Regions from separate parts of the Homo sapiens genome. Here region 2 is linked to region 1. A link means that fine-mapping ties the variant in region 1 to the expression of a gene that starts in the linked region. Tissue or cell type: unexposed skin. Region 1 holds a variant in brackets; the other region holds the start of a gene. All regions are shown on one strand. Distances are between the middles of the regions.

Region 1 (8,184 bases):
TACAATATTTGTACTCTGATCCTTTTCTCAAGCCCTAAATAATTACACAGCAGATTGCTTACTTAGTAATGTGTTCATTCGTTCTGCTTTTACCACTTAAGAAGCTCTGAAAAGTCAACATTAACATATATTAACACTAAGCAAAAAAATTAACATCCCAATGGCTTTCATACTGTCATCATTAACCATTTCTGAGAATCTGCCATGCTGCCTCTTAGAGGCTTGGTTCTTTGTCTACACTCTCTTCTGACACTCACAGTCTTACCTTTGCTTCTGTCTTTTATGTGTATATCTCTTCTACTTATTATTGGTTCTCAAGATCATGGCTAAGCCCAAGCATCAGTCGCACAAGCACATGGAATAAACCAGTACGCTATTTGCTGTTTTTACACATCTCTTCCTCCTCAACAGCAACAACTTTTTGCCACATGATTCTAAATCCCCAGGGTATAAAACCTCAGTGGGCTGCAACAGATATTAAGAAGAGACAGTCACAGAGTAAAATATCTTGCCACTGCCTGGAGCAAGAAACACATGATAAGTATGTCTAAGCTCTTCCAAAGAAGAAAAAAAAAATTGTCCTCGATTGATTTGGGTCACACAGAGAAATACTGCAGGAGAGCAGTCAAAGGCATGGACACGAGCGTCAAATTATATAGTTTGGAATTCCAGCGCTGCCATATTCAATATGAACTTGGATAAGCAGCCTGACCTCTCTGTGTCTGTTACCTGCACGTAGAGATAGCATATAAAACTCTGACCTCAACACTTGATGAAAATATACAGCAACAAGTGCCAGCTGTCATTACTTAGAGTCATAAAGCTTTAGACTTGGGTGACTTTCAGAAATTAACCCCATCCCTTTTATTGGTAGGGAAACTGAGGAAGAAAAGAAGTAATTTGTCTGAGGGTACATAGCAGATTTTACTACTCAACAGGCTAGGACACTTACCATACCATTGCCAGCCTTTCTAGAGCCTTCTTGGTCTCAGTGCTGCCTTTACTGTTTATGTTTCAGATATGAAAGGCCAGTATTTGGAAGCTGTTTTTCCTCTTAAGTTGATAGATTTATGCTGAGCCATTATCTCACCTGTCCTCTGCACTTAAGCTAGGAGCAGAAAACTAGACAGGATTAAGGATGCCTAGAGATGGGCCTGAATCACAGTGAAGCAAACAGCATTCACCTCAGCCTCACAAACATGGTTGTGGGTAGTGAAGTAATCAGCCTCGCACAGACCTGAAATACAAAACAAAAACACGGGACCCTGCTGACCACAGAACTCATCCCTCCGATTCCCCGCTAATTGTAGGTTGATAGAAACCAGTTGTAATGCAGAGTAAAAGGGCCTGTGCACAAATATATTTACTGAACGCAGAAAATGTCATTTATTTGTTTATTTATTTATTTATTTATTTGTTGAGATGGGGTCTTGGTCTGTTGCCCAGGCTGGAGTGCAGTGGCACGATCTGGGCTCACTGCCACCTCCGCCTCCCGGGTTCAAGCAATTCTCCTACCTCAGCCTCCCAAGTAGCTGGAATTACAGGCGCCCACCACCATGCCCGGCTAATTTTCATATTGTTAGTAGAGACGGGGTTTCACCATGTTGGCCAGGCTGATCTCGAACTCCTGATCTCAAGTGATCCGCCTGCCTCAGCCTCCCAAAGTGTTGGGATTACAGGCGTGAGCCACTGCGCCTGGCCTGAGCCACCGTGCCCGGGTGTTTAATAATACTTTTAATTCTTAAATGTTTGGAACAAAAAAAAGAAGAAAATGAGATTATATGATTCACATGGTACTGCTCTAGTCCTGCAGCAAATTCCAGTGCCTTCTCTGATCAGGGAATTTTTACAAAATCAAATGTGATTGATACATCTTCATCCACACTGACAGGCACCCACAGAACATCCACTGAGACCTAGACAGTAGTACTGACTGCAGGCCCTAACCCTGGGATACAACACGAACATGGTCTTGTCCTAAACAGCTGATAGGAGAAAGACAGTATTCACTGTGTTAATCTCAGTCCAAATTAATTGTCTTCATCTAGCTCCTGTCTTACATTCTTCATTGCTTGTCCCTAAATCCTAGCACGGCCAAGTCCTTTAGTTTTAAGCCTACATGAAAGGCATCCAGGGAGAGCCAGGTGGAAATGAAGGTGGTGGGGCTTGGCCTTTCTTCCCATTCCCACCTTGAGAATTTGCACCTTTCCTTCTCTGTCACCAACTAGCAGTTGCCATGGTATATAAGGGTATATCTTATTTTATCCTTAATATGTTTATTTCTGCTTCCAAGATGCTTCTGTTTTTACTAAAACCATAGAAGCTTCCCCTCCCACCACACTCGCACCACACACAAAAAGCAGTTGGAAAAACATTTCAATGATTCCTAACCACAACAGCACTTCTGACTAACTACAAAGAAGGAAGCTTTGGAGAAACATAGAGGGAAACTACAGTCCCAGCGAGACCGAAACCGGAGGGGTGAGATAGCCAGTCACAGTAAAAGCTGGAACCAGAGCCCAGACTTCCTCAACTCCAGCCCAGTCCTTTTGCCACTGGGGAAACGCTGTTTACATGTCCTCACCTGCGACGAACAACATTTGATAACTCACAAAATTAACACCTTTCAGGGAGAGCGGGGCACTGGCCAGGTCCCTCTGATAATGAATTGCTGCTCTAAGACATAACTGCTGTGGGGAGGAGGTTGGTGTTTGGCGGGGAAGGGCTGCTAGCCTGCAGTTTCATAAGGACAATAATACATCAAAAAGGACAATCATAGATCAAAGGGGATATTTTGGGTCAACTTGATATGTAGTGGAAAGCAGATTGGGAGGGGAGCCAAGTACTGGATATGCTCCGTGCGTGAGTGTGTCTGTGTGTGTGTGTGTGTGTGTGTGTAAATCATGTTGCTCTCTGGGTCTGTTTCCCAATCTGTAGAGTGTAAAAGTCTCTGAGGCTCCTTGCAGAGACAAGTGATGGAACGACCTTGACAGAAGAGAGCAGAGAGAGGAAAGAAGGGGGAGGAAGCCAAGCAAAGGAGAGAGAAATGGTGTGATGGGGGAGGAGACGCGGAGTTGGGTAGAAATGCCTTTTAATAAGATATTGGGAAAAAAGTATTAAACCTAAAACTGCAGCTCTTGAAGGATCATTTTTTCATCTTTGTGTTAGGATTTACAAGTACAGTGCATAGTAATTTTTGGATAATTGGAGTGAATGAATGAAAAGCGTGAAACGCCTTACAGGAGCGAGAAGATCCACGAGAGAAAGCGAGCA[G/A]GGACGCAGCTCTGGTGCCTGGTCCTGCCGGGTGGTCCCCACGCCGCCAGCCGCGCGTTCCCCAACCGGGCGCTCCCGGCGCCCTCTCGGTGAGCCGCCCTGAAACCGCCAGGGGGCGCTCCCCGGCTGCCGGGGCTGAGGCGGGCGGAGCTGCTTTAAATCGCGGCGCCCAGCGGTTCTGCGTCTCAGTTCCCGAGCCTGGGAGCAACCGCAGCTTCTAGTATCCAGACTCCAGCGCCGCCCCGGGCGCGGACCCCAACCCCGACCCAGAGCTTCTCCAGCGGCGGCGCAGCGAGCAGGGCTCCCCGCCTTAACTTCCTCCGCGGGGCCCAGCCACCTTCGGGAGTCCGGGTTGCCCACCTGCAAACTCTCCGCCTTCTGCACCTGCCACCCCTGAGCCAGCGCGGGCGCCCGAGCGAGTCATGGCCAACGCGGGGCTGCAGCTGTTGGGCTTCATTCTCGCCTTCCTGGGATGGATCGGCGCCATCGTCAGCACTGCCCTGCCCCAGTGGAGGATTTACTCCTATGCCGGCGACAACATCGTGACCGCCCAGGCCATGTACGAGGGGCTGTGGATGTCCTGCGTGTCGCAGAGCACCGGGCAGATCCAGTGCAAAGTCTTTGACTCCTTGCTGAATCTGAGCAGTGAGTGCACCCCCACCTCACAGCGGCCGTCCAGAGGCCCCAGTCCCCCTGCAGCTCCCTTATGGGCTCATTCTGTTGTGTGATTCCATGGTTATCAGTCTTCAGTTGATCAAGTCTTCTGATCATGTGCTCTGTCATAAGGAAATGAAGAGAATCCTGGTTTGAGGAAAGCGACGCCCAGGCATAAGCTCTAGTTTTGCCTCTAACTCCCTGGGTGACACTTCTGCCACTCTAGGTGTGGCTTCATCCTAAATTCCTATGCTGGTGGTTCGAGTTGAGGGAGTGAAGGCCAAACTTGAACTTGAGCTCTTAGACCTCTCCTAGGCATTCCGAGATTTGGGGTAAATTGAGGATTGGTAGAGTTCAGACAAGAAAATGGGATGACTGAAAAAGTTTGAAGCCTGGTAACTTCTCAAGTGTGCACGCTTAAATAAATAATCCTCAAGTATTAGATATAACTTTTTAACCTTTAATATGATTTTTTCATAGTAAAAGTTACATTCCTACTGGAAATGTCCTATCTAAGTGTCTTCTGCTTATGCTTGAGGTTGATTCTTTTAATTTATAAGATCCAGTTAGTGCAGGGAGGCCCCTTGCAAGACTCTTTGGAGAAGCTGCTTGAGATTCCCCCGAAGTTTTAATTTTCAGACCCAAGGTCTTCTGTAGAGGCTGACGGTGTAGTGCTATCTTGGAAAGAGAAGGTTGGTGGCAGGTGGGGAAAGGCTGACAAGAAAGGTTCTAAATAACCTGCGCAACATAATACAAAGAAAAAAGTAAAGGCACTGAAGGGAAATGCAGCAAAATAGTCATAGCTGATGAAATCAGAGGTCAGCTGGGAGTGGAAGGCAGTGAGAGAGAAAGAAGAGGTGGGTCTTCCTTAGGTTTCCATCTTCCACAAAGAAATTTCTGTGTAATGGATGTTCAGTGACCCCCTGTAAAACTGGAAAGGATTGTATAGAGAGACATATTTCTAAGGATGGTGGGAAGAAGGATAATAGGATAATTGTTTTACTTTGTTTTTTAAATTAAAGGTTTCGAGTTCCTTGTCCGAAAAGTCATTAAATTCCCATTTACTTAGATAATAATGATTCACGGCTGGAGTATCTTCCTTGAGAAATCACATTAATTGTCTTATATCATGTGTCTGTTATGCCCTTTAACTCACTTGAAGAAAAGATCCCTTAGTCTTTGCCTAGATGAACGTGACTGCCCACTGGCCCCCATTGCATGCTAAGGGTGAAAAGTGTTGGCATTGTTCAAGTTTACTTAACTTGTTTTGTCTACCTCCTATCAAGGGACAACTTTTAATAGTGTATATCAAAAGCCATATAGTTTAGAGTTATTAAACCTGTTCCAAATCTGTTTGAACACCTTGAATACCTGTGGCATTTGCTCAGTCAATGTGCATGGTTGTTTTGAGTGTTATTATTTCAGCTTTTGAAGGTTCTCATATCAGGACTTCTTTACACCAAAACCAATCCATAAGTTTAGTAATTATGTGTTGCTCATTGCCCTCAGGGGTTATATTTGTACTTATAAAATGAAAAATTTGGTAATAATTATTGAATTTCTCCATGGAAAGATAAATATATTTAAGGAAACGGTGTCAGGCATTTTAGGTACCACGTTAAGGAATTGGCAGGTGGAGGTTTCTAAGGACAATTCCAGAGAGGTCTCACTGTCAGTTTTATTCCTCTGATCAAAATAGTTCCTTTTCAACATCTTTAAATAGGTTTTCTTTTAACTTCCTGAAATGACCAAATGAAATCAGATTGATCTATGTTGTAAATACTCAAATGGATCATCCTTACACATGATAATGTGTTAAAATGTTTTACTTTCATTTTTTGGTTAATGTAGTTATTACAGTTTTTAAAACTAGGGTGAAAGGACTAAATACCTACCCCCCCACACACACTTTAGAGATGTCTTCCTATTTTTTTAAAACTCCAGATCAGAATCCACTTTTATTTTACTTAAAGCCATAGTTTATCCAAGGTGTGGCTTAGGCCTTTCTCTCAAAACCCATTCTCAGAAGAGGGACCCTTGACTCACAGGTGTTCTCCTCTCACCTGCCGTGACTCACGGGATGCTTTTGGATAGAACCCAGGAAACCTTACTTCATTTCTCTGCCTGAGCAGTGGTGTTTACGCCCACCAGCTGTAGAGATCTGGGATGGTGATTCATTGGCTGGTTTTGGTACAGTTTTGTTACATGTAGAGATGAAAAGGGTTATGTGTGTATATTTAAGCAGTATCACTCAGAAAAAAGCTGCATTTCATTAAGTGTGTTTAGGTGAAAAGCTTAGCTGTGGGTTTCCCGAAATTGTACCTTGCCGTCTTTCCCAGTAGAGCACACTTGTCTTCCCGGCCAGATGCAGGGCTTTAGCACGGGAAGTATTAAAATCTGTTGTTTCCCTGCTTTATGTAGGGTAGGTCATAAAAAGCATATGACCTTCATAAAGTATCTGAAGGAATACAGTGTGCTAATAGTGTATACAGTAAATACAAAATGAGATAGAGCAAGGCTTCTTCTTTTAGGTAGTTCTTGCCAAGCGGTTTATGAAAATGTAACTGAGGCACTTCCTGGGGAAACAAATGTCACATTGTGTATTGTAGTTTTATAATGGCTGATACAATTTCCATTTCATCCAAAGTATGTGATTTTATTGACCCTGGGGATTCTTGTAGCTGAAAGTTGGAATATACAAAAAGTGCCAGATACAGTTGTAGTAGACTTTTCTTGATTCACCTGTACCTCTCGCCTTGTTTTCATCTAATTCTCAAACTTTTAGGAAGCTCGCGCCAATTTTATGTGCTTGCTTAAATGCTTCTTCTTACTTGACTTTAATAGCTAGAGCTGTCCAAAGATTGAGTTGCTGTAGGAGGCTGCATGGTGGGAGGTGTGCAAGCAGAGAATAAATAAGCATTTTGAAGGAATGTTGTAGGGAAGATCCAAGCACCAGACAAATGGGAGGTTAGGCTAGACTCTCTCTCAATCTCACCGAACCCTGAGATTCTGTAATTTGTTTATAAGCTCCTCTAGCCTGTTTAACTTGCTTTGCATGAATCCACATGTGTGTAGGTGTGCTTAATGAGTATTGGTGGCTGTGAGCTTCCCCAGCACTCTCACCATGATGTCAGGCTCAATCAGAGAGACAAAATCACTGACGTGGACAGTCTTTGAAGCCTAAGTGGAGAGGAGGGCACCTATTTATGCTTCTCCAGATGCGTTGTGCCTGCTGAACCGAGGGTACTCGAAGGGCCATTGGTGTTCAGATATACTTCATAAATTAGTTCTGACTCTTAGAATAATGGAAGTTGAAGCAAAAATCCAGGCTTGAGATCAGAAATTCTCTGTTCTTACTGTGGTTTGGCACTAAGTAGCCAAGTGTATAATGGTGAGCCACTTGATCTCCCTGGTTTCAAGTAGTTACCCCACTTATAAAATAGGGCAGAGTGGGAGGAATGGGGAGATGAATCTATGATTCGTTTATCCATTCAACAGATGCAAGCTAGGCCCTATTCTTGCTGCTAAGGATGGTGCAGCTAAGATGAGTTCTAAGATTCCTTCCAGTGCCAGAATTCTTTGTTATTACTTCAGTGATTGAAGGGGAAGAGGCAAGTCACATAGCTTAGGTTTCCTTAATTGGAGTGATTAAGGAAATATAATGGAGGTAATATAGAAGCATCAACTTAATTCTGAGAAAATTTCTTGAAGAAACACACAAACAAGAAAGGTAGCAAAACTTCTGAGGACATCCTGAAAAGTGGTACATCCTGCCTCATCCAGGATCATTTTCACTCCTGATTTTGCTTATGTTCTGAGTTCACATCTGGTGACCATCACCTCATGCACCAATAAGAGGGAAATGCTAATGATTAGGACTTTTATGAAACTTTGAACTTCCGTAAAAGTAAAAGATTTAATATGGAGAAAAGCCAGGGGAGTACACTTCTGTGACTGTCTGTGTTGAGCTCATTTAATTGCAGGGGAGAAGGAAGCACAATATTTTTGTTCTAGTCACCCAATCATCAGTTCATTTATTCACTTAATACTTATTAAGCAACTACAGATGCAAAGGGAGAATTGGAATCTGCAGTCAACATTTGAACAACACAGGTTTGAACAGCAAGTGTCCACTTATAGGTGGATTTCTTTCAACCAATACCGATCAAGAATACAGTATCTGAGAGTCCAAAGCCTGCATGTAGGGAGGGTTGACTTTCTGTATACAAGGCTTCCACAGGATCAACTGTAGGACTT
Region 2 (8,184 bases), 66 kb before region 1:
GATTCCCAATGGAAATGTCTGGAGAAGTGCCAGACACCACCAGTCCATTAGTGAGTGTCCAACTCTCTGAAGTTTCAGACAGTCATGGAGACATGATGTTAAAAAAAAAAAAAAAAAGACTGAAAAGGACCTTAGAAACAACTGAGTTCAACTATACAATTGAAAAAACTGAGCCAAAGACAAGAAATGTGACTTGCTTAATAGAAGGCAGTTAATAAGGGTTAAGATGCAAACATACGCTTGAAAAATCTCAAAACCCAAATTCTCTTCTCCCTATCAGTCTTCTCAGAGACACAAATGAATCAATAATGACAAGAGCAGGATGGTAGCTGAGGGCCTCTAGTCACTGATGTAGGGTTGTGCACATCGTAATTCTGTGTGCTATTTTCTTTCCTAGCATTTTTACCTAATACGAAGAACTTCATTTGAGATAGGTAGAGTGTGGTAGGCAAAAAGAATATCTGAGCTTTTTCTGCCTCCTTCTTTGTGTTGCCCACTTTAGTCCTCTAACAAGCCCTGAGCTTCTCCTCTCTTTGCACTTTTGCCACTCTGTCCCCTTATCTGAAAGGCCCCTGCTGCCATTTCTACAATTTGAAATGCTTTACATCGTTTCAAGGCTTTGCTCAAATGCCTTTTCTTTCATGAGACCTGCTTCGATGGCCCTGATAGGAAGTAATCATCGCATATTTTCTTCCCCAATGATACTTCGTTTATTTCTTGCTCAAAATATGAATTTATTTATGCTTTTTATTATAGTTTCATGTGTATCTTTGTTTTCCCCTCATTAAATGTGCACTCCTGAGAGGCAGGAGCAATTTTTGCTTTATCTTTGTCTCTTCTAGTAGGAGTAGCATCATTCCTTTTATATGATATAATTGTATATATTTTTATACTGAATTGAACCACAAAACTCTTCTTCTAAATCCCGTGCCAACATCATCCAAATATACTAAAAAAAAAAAAAAAAACTGGAAAAGTATAATACTCCTTCTTATTTAAATTGTCTATTGGTATTCCTTTTTTTTCTTAAAAAATCAAAACAAAACAAAACACTTGTTTCGTTGACTTTTGTCCAACAATGGATTAAAGTGAGCTGCTGTGGTGGTTCACTCCTATAATCCCAGTACTTTAGGAGGCCGAGGCAAGAGGATCACTTGAGGCCTGGAGTTGGAGACCAGCCTAGAGAACAGAGAAAGTCCTTGTTCTTACAAAAAATTTTTAAAATTAGCCAGTTGTGGGGACATGCACCTGTAGGCCTAGCTACTAGGGAGGCTGAGGTGGGAGGATGACTTGAGCCTAGAAGTTTGAATCTGCAGTGAGATATGATCACACCAGTACACTCTATCCTGGGTGACAGCGTGAGACCAAATCTATAAAAAAATAAAAATAAAAACATAAAGTGAGTTGTTATATGGACCAAAGGTGATATATAAATGAGGATGGCGGCAAGAAAAGAGAAGAGCAATTGAGCTAGCATCAGAACCTTCAAATTTGTGGAAAATATAAGTTTCTATCCTGGCCTGTTGAAGTAGCAATTATTATAAGAGATTATTGTCTCTTTAAAAATATTGACAACTAAAGAGATTGTTGAAAGAGAAGGGAGCCGGATTTGTTACAGGGTTCTTCTTCTTCTTCTTCTTTTTTAAGATGGAGTCTCGCTCTGTCGCCAGGCTGGAGTGCAGTGGCACAATCTCGGCTCAGTGCAACCTCCTCCTCCCTAGTTCAAGCGATTCTCCTGCCTCAGCCTCCTTAGTAGCTGGGACTACAGGCCCCTGCCACCACACCCAGCTAATTTTTGTATTTTTGTTAGAGATGGGGTTTCACTATGTCGGCCAGGATGGTCTCAATCTCTTGACCTGTGATCTGCCCGCCTCGGCCTTCCAAAGTATTGGGATTACAGGCATAAGCCACCATGCCCAGCCTCTTCCTTTAAATGTGAAGGCTTCTTGGGAATATTATAGCAATACATTTTAAGTATGGGAAATAAGAAGGAAGCTAAGAAATATTAACTATTTTTCAAGGTTAGCAAGGGTTTACTTGAGGTGTGTAACCTGGACTGCTCATTCCATTCGTTTTAACTAGAAGTATTCTTTCATGGGACAGATGGCAAATTGGTTGGTTATACTAAAATGAAAGAAGACACTTTAAATTCCAGGACTCTCAATCTCTCTCTCAGCAAGGTTTGACCCTTTCTAAAACTATTTCTTATCAAATGAAGTTAGCAATTATGTCAGCTTAAGCAGAAAGACTTTTAAATTGTTTTAGAAAATATTTTAACAATGCCCCTAGATGGGATTTTACATTTTTTTGTATTTTAAAAAACATAATTATAATTATGCTCAAGTTAAACATATTTCTGTATTCATCACCTACCACTGGCCATCTAGATAATGGCAAACTAATGACAGCAGAACGTTTTATCTGCACTTTTCCCTGAGCACTGTTCAAAGGGCATTTATTTCATTCTTTGCATATATTCATGGCCAGATAAAATGCATCACTGGGCTCACTTATAGCAGACATCCTTTACAGTAGTTCAATTCTATCACAATTTTTGGAAATGTAATTTTCTAGCATTAAAGAGGTATTCCTAACTCCATTGGTTTTGAAATGCCATGTTCAAGTCAGAGGCAAATTAAAAGCAAGAAAAAGCGAGCAGCAAAAATAATGCACAGCAAAATAGAATCATTATTACTTTCCATTTGGAACTCCAATTTGAGAGTTTAATAAAGAAAATTAGAAGAAAAATATATAAACTCAGTCGAGTATCTTTCTTAAACTTTATAGAGGTGACATTATAGCATTTGCTAGGGTAAATTGTTCCCTTCAGGATGCACATTAAAAAGCAAATTGTTTTGCTATATACTCCTTTTTTTGAGCTCTTGAAATATTGTTTCTTTTTCTTACCTGTGTTTTCCTAAGCCTCATTAATGAACAGCAGCTAATTCTGAAGATTTGATTTTTTACTCAGTTCTGCCTCTCTCAGATTCCTATGGCCACAGGTAATGGTTTTGAACTTCAAAATTACTTCTTTCTGAGCTTCTCCAGCGAGAAAAATAAAATCCTCAAATGTGAACCCACTCACTCATCTTTTGAATAGTAGTCAGTTCCCTAGAGCAACTCATTTTAAGGGAGGATTTAAATCCATGCCTGTCCCCCGTACATTGGGATGCACTGGAAAGACATTTTCTCCCTCAACATTTTTTCTTTTACTTGGAAATCATTAAGATAATGTTTTTTCCTCTTGCATGTTAATTGGGTAGGTTTTGCATGCCTTGCATTTTCTTTCTCAACGTTTTAGATTATTAACACTCCTTAAAAAAAGTCTATCACACTATTCTTAATGCTGTCATCAAGAGTAAAAAATTTATCTTAGAAAAAAGGGTGGTACTGAAATGTTACTCAATATGATATATGCAGCAATGGAAGACGTGAATTTCTGGAGGTCTCAGTAGCAGAGATCACTTAATTACCCTTGTGGAAATTTATCCTTGTGAAAAAAGGAGGAACTATTTAGTAACTTCATCTGTTTAATGGGATAACAAGACCTACCTCATAAATTAACTATGAGGATTAAATGAGCTAATAATGTAAAGACTCAATAAATAGTCCATGTTGCCTATTTTTGGTATCATTAGCCTTAGTAAAGATACTGAATGTTGTACATGGCAGTTGGGACTTAGCGAAAATTTGGGCTGGCCTGGATCATGAAAAGAAGCTGCTATCTTCTTACCTCCAGAGAGTCATCAGCATTCACCATCCAACAGTCAGTCCAGGTGGCCACAATCAAAAACCCAGCAGAGAAAAAGGCAAAGAAGCAAGCGATGTATTGAAGAAGATCCCTCATTGTGGCAAGCAGCCCATCAGGATGGCAACATGGGCAGACACCAGCCCTGGCCCCACTTAAGTGGCGGGTGTCAGTCTTCTGTGTTTCTGGTACCTGGCAATGTGAAAATACTGGTCTTTTACTTTTTCTCACGCCCTGCTGCAGGTGTCTTGAGTTGCAGTAAGAATAATACAAACAGGCTGTAACCAACAGTGGGGTCCTGGAGGTCATTATCCGAAGCAACCAGCCTCCAATCAGAAGGCAGGTCAGTGCAAGGGCTGAGTGTGTTTCGGGTGGGGGAGAGAGGAGTTCTGTAACGTTTTCTGACCCAACTGTGGGCTAGTGGTGGTCACCAGACCAAGTGCCAGTGCCAAGACGGGGGAAGGAGGAAGGGTCCCACCCCATGCTGGAACCTGTAAACTGATCTTTCTTAGGCCCTCTAGGGAGAGTGAGCTATTCTCCTCCCCACTCGGAAGAAGGCTACACGGTTGACTGAGTGTTATTTTATTGTTAGGACTATTTTAATATTCGCCGACTACTTTAGACAGACAGGCCACTGGTGAAACTATGCTAAACAAGTGCTCGCTCAAGGGAGTCTGCATTCCAAAGTGTTGCGTAGAACAGCCCCATGAAGGACTTGTAGCACCTGGGCAGTAGGGACAGCCAAGGCTCCTAACCTTTCAGCATCGTAGAGTGGGAACAAGTGTGCATTTTAATGCAGACAGCTCTGGGTGGAAATTCTTGCTCTGAATTTATGGTCTGAGAGCCCTTGGGCTGTAGTTTCTGAAAATGCATGTATTAATATTTTCTTTATATAATGCTTGTTCTTCATATGAGGAATAAAAGATATTGTGCCTGTAAGTCGCTTAGAATAGCATCTGTCAGTAATAGCTAAATGGAAAATATTAACATGACTAAGAATTTCCTATATTATTACTTTTCCCTCATGGACCAATGTTTGAAAACGCGTCTAATGAAGAAAAAAAAACTGTTATATTAGGAAGAAAGTGTGTTTCTTTTTTGTAAAAAAAAGTTTTTAATATGTAACTGGGGCAACTGGAATTTTATCTGTATCTGAATAGGTATCCTTAATGGGTCTACAAATTCCATAACCAATACTCTTTAATATGCTTTAAAAAGCACATATATCAACATTTTCTCTTCATCAGGTAGACTTCTATATACTAAAATAAAAATTTTGAATGAGAACAGTAAAAACAAAGTGGTGATTCTTAATGTAGGAGAGAATGTCAAAGGGGAGACAGAGTGAGAGAAAGAAATTGGGAGGGAGAGAAAGAAAGGAGCAGAGAAAAGGCCAGAAAGAGGTAATTACTCTGGCATGAATCAGCTACTAAGATTCTTATTTTACCAACAGCTTATAAAAGGATTACTTTTTTCCATTTGAAAATTATTTGATCATAATATACAGTATAAAAGGCTAAAATCAGTATTGATAAACCATTTTTCAAAATATATTACAATAATAAACTTTTTGTGGCTAAACTTTGTTTTTTCTAATTTTAATTCATTTTATTCAAGTATATAAAACGTAAATTTAAATGTAAAAGCTGCATGGAAAACCATAGGTGGAATATAAGCTTAATTATTTCTATACATAGGGTCTACAGTACCACCCCTGCTATCCAGAATTTCCCTTTTGAGGCTTCAGTTACCAGTGGTTAATCATGGTCTGCAAAAATTACATGGGAAATTTCATAGATAAACAATTCATCAGTGGTAAATTGAACACTGTTCTGAATAGCGTGATGAAATCTCAAGCCATCCCACTTCACATGGGATATGAATCATCCCTTTGGCCAGCATTTCCACATTGTATGCACTACCCACCCCTTAGTCACTTAATAGCTGCCTCGGTGATCTGACCTACTGTTGCGTATAGTGTGTGTAGGATCCAGTACTGTCCTTCGTTTCTGACATCCACTGAGGGTCTTTGAACATATTCCTCAAGGAGAAGGGGTGATTACTGTACACATTAGCGATCGTTATAACTATCTGCGAGGTACATTACAGATGCTTTTATTTTACTTATTTTGTTTAACAGTTGGAAAAAAAATACCTGTTTTTTAAGTGCTCATTCAAAGAATGTCATTGCCCACGGAATACAAACATGCTGCTTTGGTGAGTCACAGAGAATCTTTCCCTGTGCCCTAAAATCTGAAATGCTATTAAGATTTACTCTGCTGATCTGGGAGAGCAAACCAATTCCAAAAGCACATGCCCTTTGCAGGAAAAGTCCTGGACTTGTTGCTGACATTTCACACAGGGACTTTTCACAGTGTACTTTACCTGCTAACAGTGCACTCCAAGGCAGTAGTTCTTCAACCTGAGTGTACACTGGACTCTGTAAGGCCACTTGTTATAAATGCAAACCCAGGAATTCCACTCCCAGACATTTGGATTCAGGAAATTGGGAGTGGAAGCCAGGAATTCATATTTTACATGTGTTTTGTATAAAATTCTGATTTTGAAACAGATGGCCATACTTTGAGAGATGAGTTTAGAACAACAAAAGAAAAACAATTTTTTAAGAGTTATATACTACAAATCACAGACAAAGTTTTAGAAAAGAGGGTATCAGAATTCCATCTTTGCTACAAACTCTTCCCTAACTAGCACCAATAGGTCCCAAATCCAAATATCAGAACTTAATGGAAAGAAATAAAGACCAAAAAATGCTAAGCATATGCATTCTCATATGCAAACACACACATGTGCATACATATCTCTGGAAATCATAGATTCTTTCACAAAAAAAAAAATCTAGACTATAGCATTCATTCGCTCCTAATGGTCACTGAACATTGTATGTGATAGGGAGTGGGGAATTATTCAGGTGGCTATAGAATTGTTCCTGAATTTAAGTTTACTACTCTTAGAGAATAACATAAAACATTCAGGCTTGCATGTGAATTTCTGTGAGTGAGGCCATAATGTAATAGGAGATACAAAAAGGAGAGTCATGCAAACTGATAGAGCAGTAAACACTTCATGGATGGGATGTGAGTGCACTTCTAAGAAATGTGTAGGGTGTTGTGAGGATGGAGGGCACAGATGCAGAATAAACTGCTCACCAATCTATATAGACACATCTCTTTTGCATTCTGACCCTCCCTAGGCTTCAACATTTTGGTTTATCAACTCTTTTATAGTTTAATTCCATTCCATCCAGCACACATTTATGAACAGTGTACTCTGACTCTAGTACTTTCTCTTGGGACACAGAGAAAATAAACGGTTGGAAGAACTCATCCTAGTCCTTGAGAGGTTTACTCTTCAGTGAGTGGACCAGAAGCAGGAAGTAAAGAACTCCATTCAGGTAATTCTGACAACAGTCTTAAGCTATAATACCACTCCCAATAAGAGTATATAGGCATATTAGTTAGAAATATGATGTGTTTTCCAATTTATTATAAACATGAAGAAAAGTTATTACTGTGTGTTGCTCAATAAGGTTTACAAAATATTTTCAGATATATTATCTCATCTAAGCTCTGTGAAGACAGACATCTTTCGTTCACCAGTGCATCCCACATGCTTAAAATTCTACCTGGCATATGGTAGGCTCTCAGCAAATGTGTAATAATTTAATTCTCAGAGCCCCCACATTTTACAGAAGAGGGAGTAATATTGGACTTTCCCCTTCTGAAACATTCAGGGTCCTCCAGGATGGATACTAGGCTGGCAAAAGTGTCCTAATCATCTTTGCAGCTCCAGGGCTATTGATTTTGCAAGATCTCTAAGACCAACAGTTTGGTCAATTCATTATGCACCATGTTCCTACTCACCCAGTGCTTGCACTACTCCTGGATGAGGCTTTAGAGCCACCTGGCGATCAGTTGAGTGACACCCTTAATCTAGCACCGTGGCTGTTGGTCTATTAAAGGAAGTAATTGTAGAACTGGAAGTATTGCAGTTGTCCTTTTGGTCTGCAGGTGGAAGCAGCCTTGCATTTTCAGTTAAACAGAACAGCAAGCTCTTGTGTCAAGAACAGCATATTTTTGTGTTAGTTCTGTTGTTTCCATTAATGTCACAAAATGTTCCCTCTATATTTATTAGGATAATAAGAGTTATTAGAAGGAGTAAACTGACTTATACCATATCCTATAAATAGTCTTCTAACTCCCTTTGAAATTTCCAGTGCATATTGGAAAAATCTAAACAATAAAATCAGTTGCTGTTCTGAAAGGCCATGCTAGCTATAACTAATATAAAAAAAGCGGTGGTTAAAAGCTTGGACCTCATAGTCAGGCTGACTCGAGTTTAGGCTAAGCCCATTTATATATGACAGATCTTGAGCAAGCTAGTTAACATTTCTGAGGCTGCCTTCTTGTCAATAA

Evidence for each region. PIP is the estimated chance that this variant, and not a neighbour inherited with it, causes the effect.
Region 2: it holds the start of CLDN16, and the variant in region 1 is fine-mapped to the expression of CLDN16 in unexposed skin (GTEx, PIP 0.97).

What each region holds. Positions count from the first base shown.
Region 1 is chr3:190,317,718-190,325,901 of GRCh38, reverse strand. CLDN1 (claudin 1) reads left to right here and starts at 3,456. Exons shown (of 4, transcript NM_021101.5): 1 at 3,456-3,918. The coding sequence starts at 3,696. It also overlaps a transcript of CLDN16 not described here. RefSeq lists a silencer at 3,306-3,465. The variant G/A (reference allele first, on the strand shown) is at 3,274.
Region 2 is chr3:190,383,993-190,392,176 of GRCh38, reverse strand. It overlaps CLDN16 (claudin 16), which reads right to left and starts at 4,014. Exons shown (of 5, transcript NM_006580.4): 1 at 3,734-4,014. The coding sequence starts at 3,847. RefSeq lists an enhancer at 5,463-5,757 and a silencer at 7,583-7,877.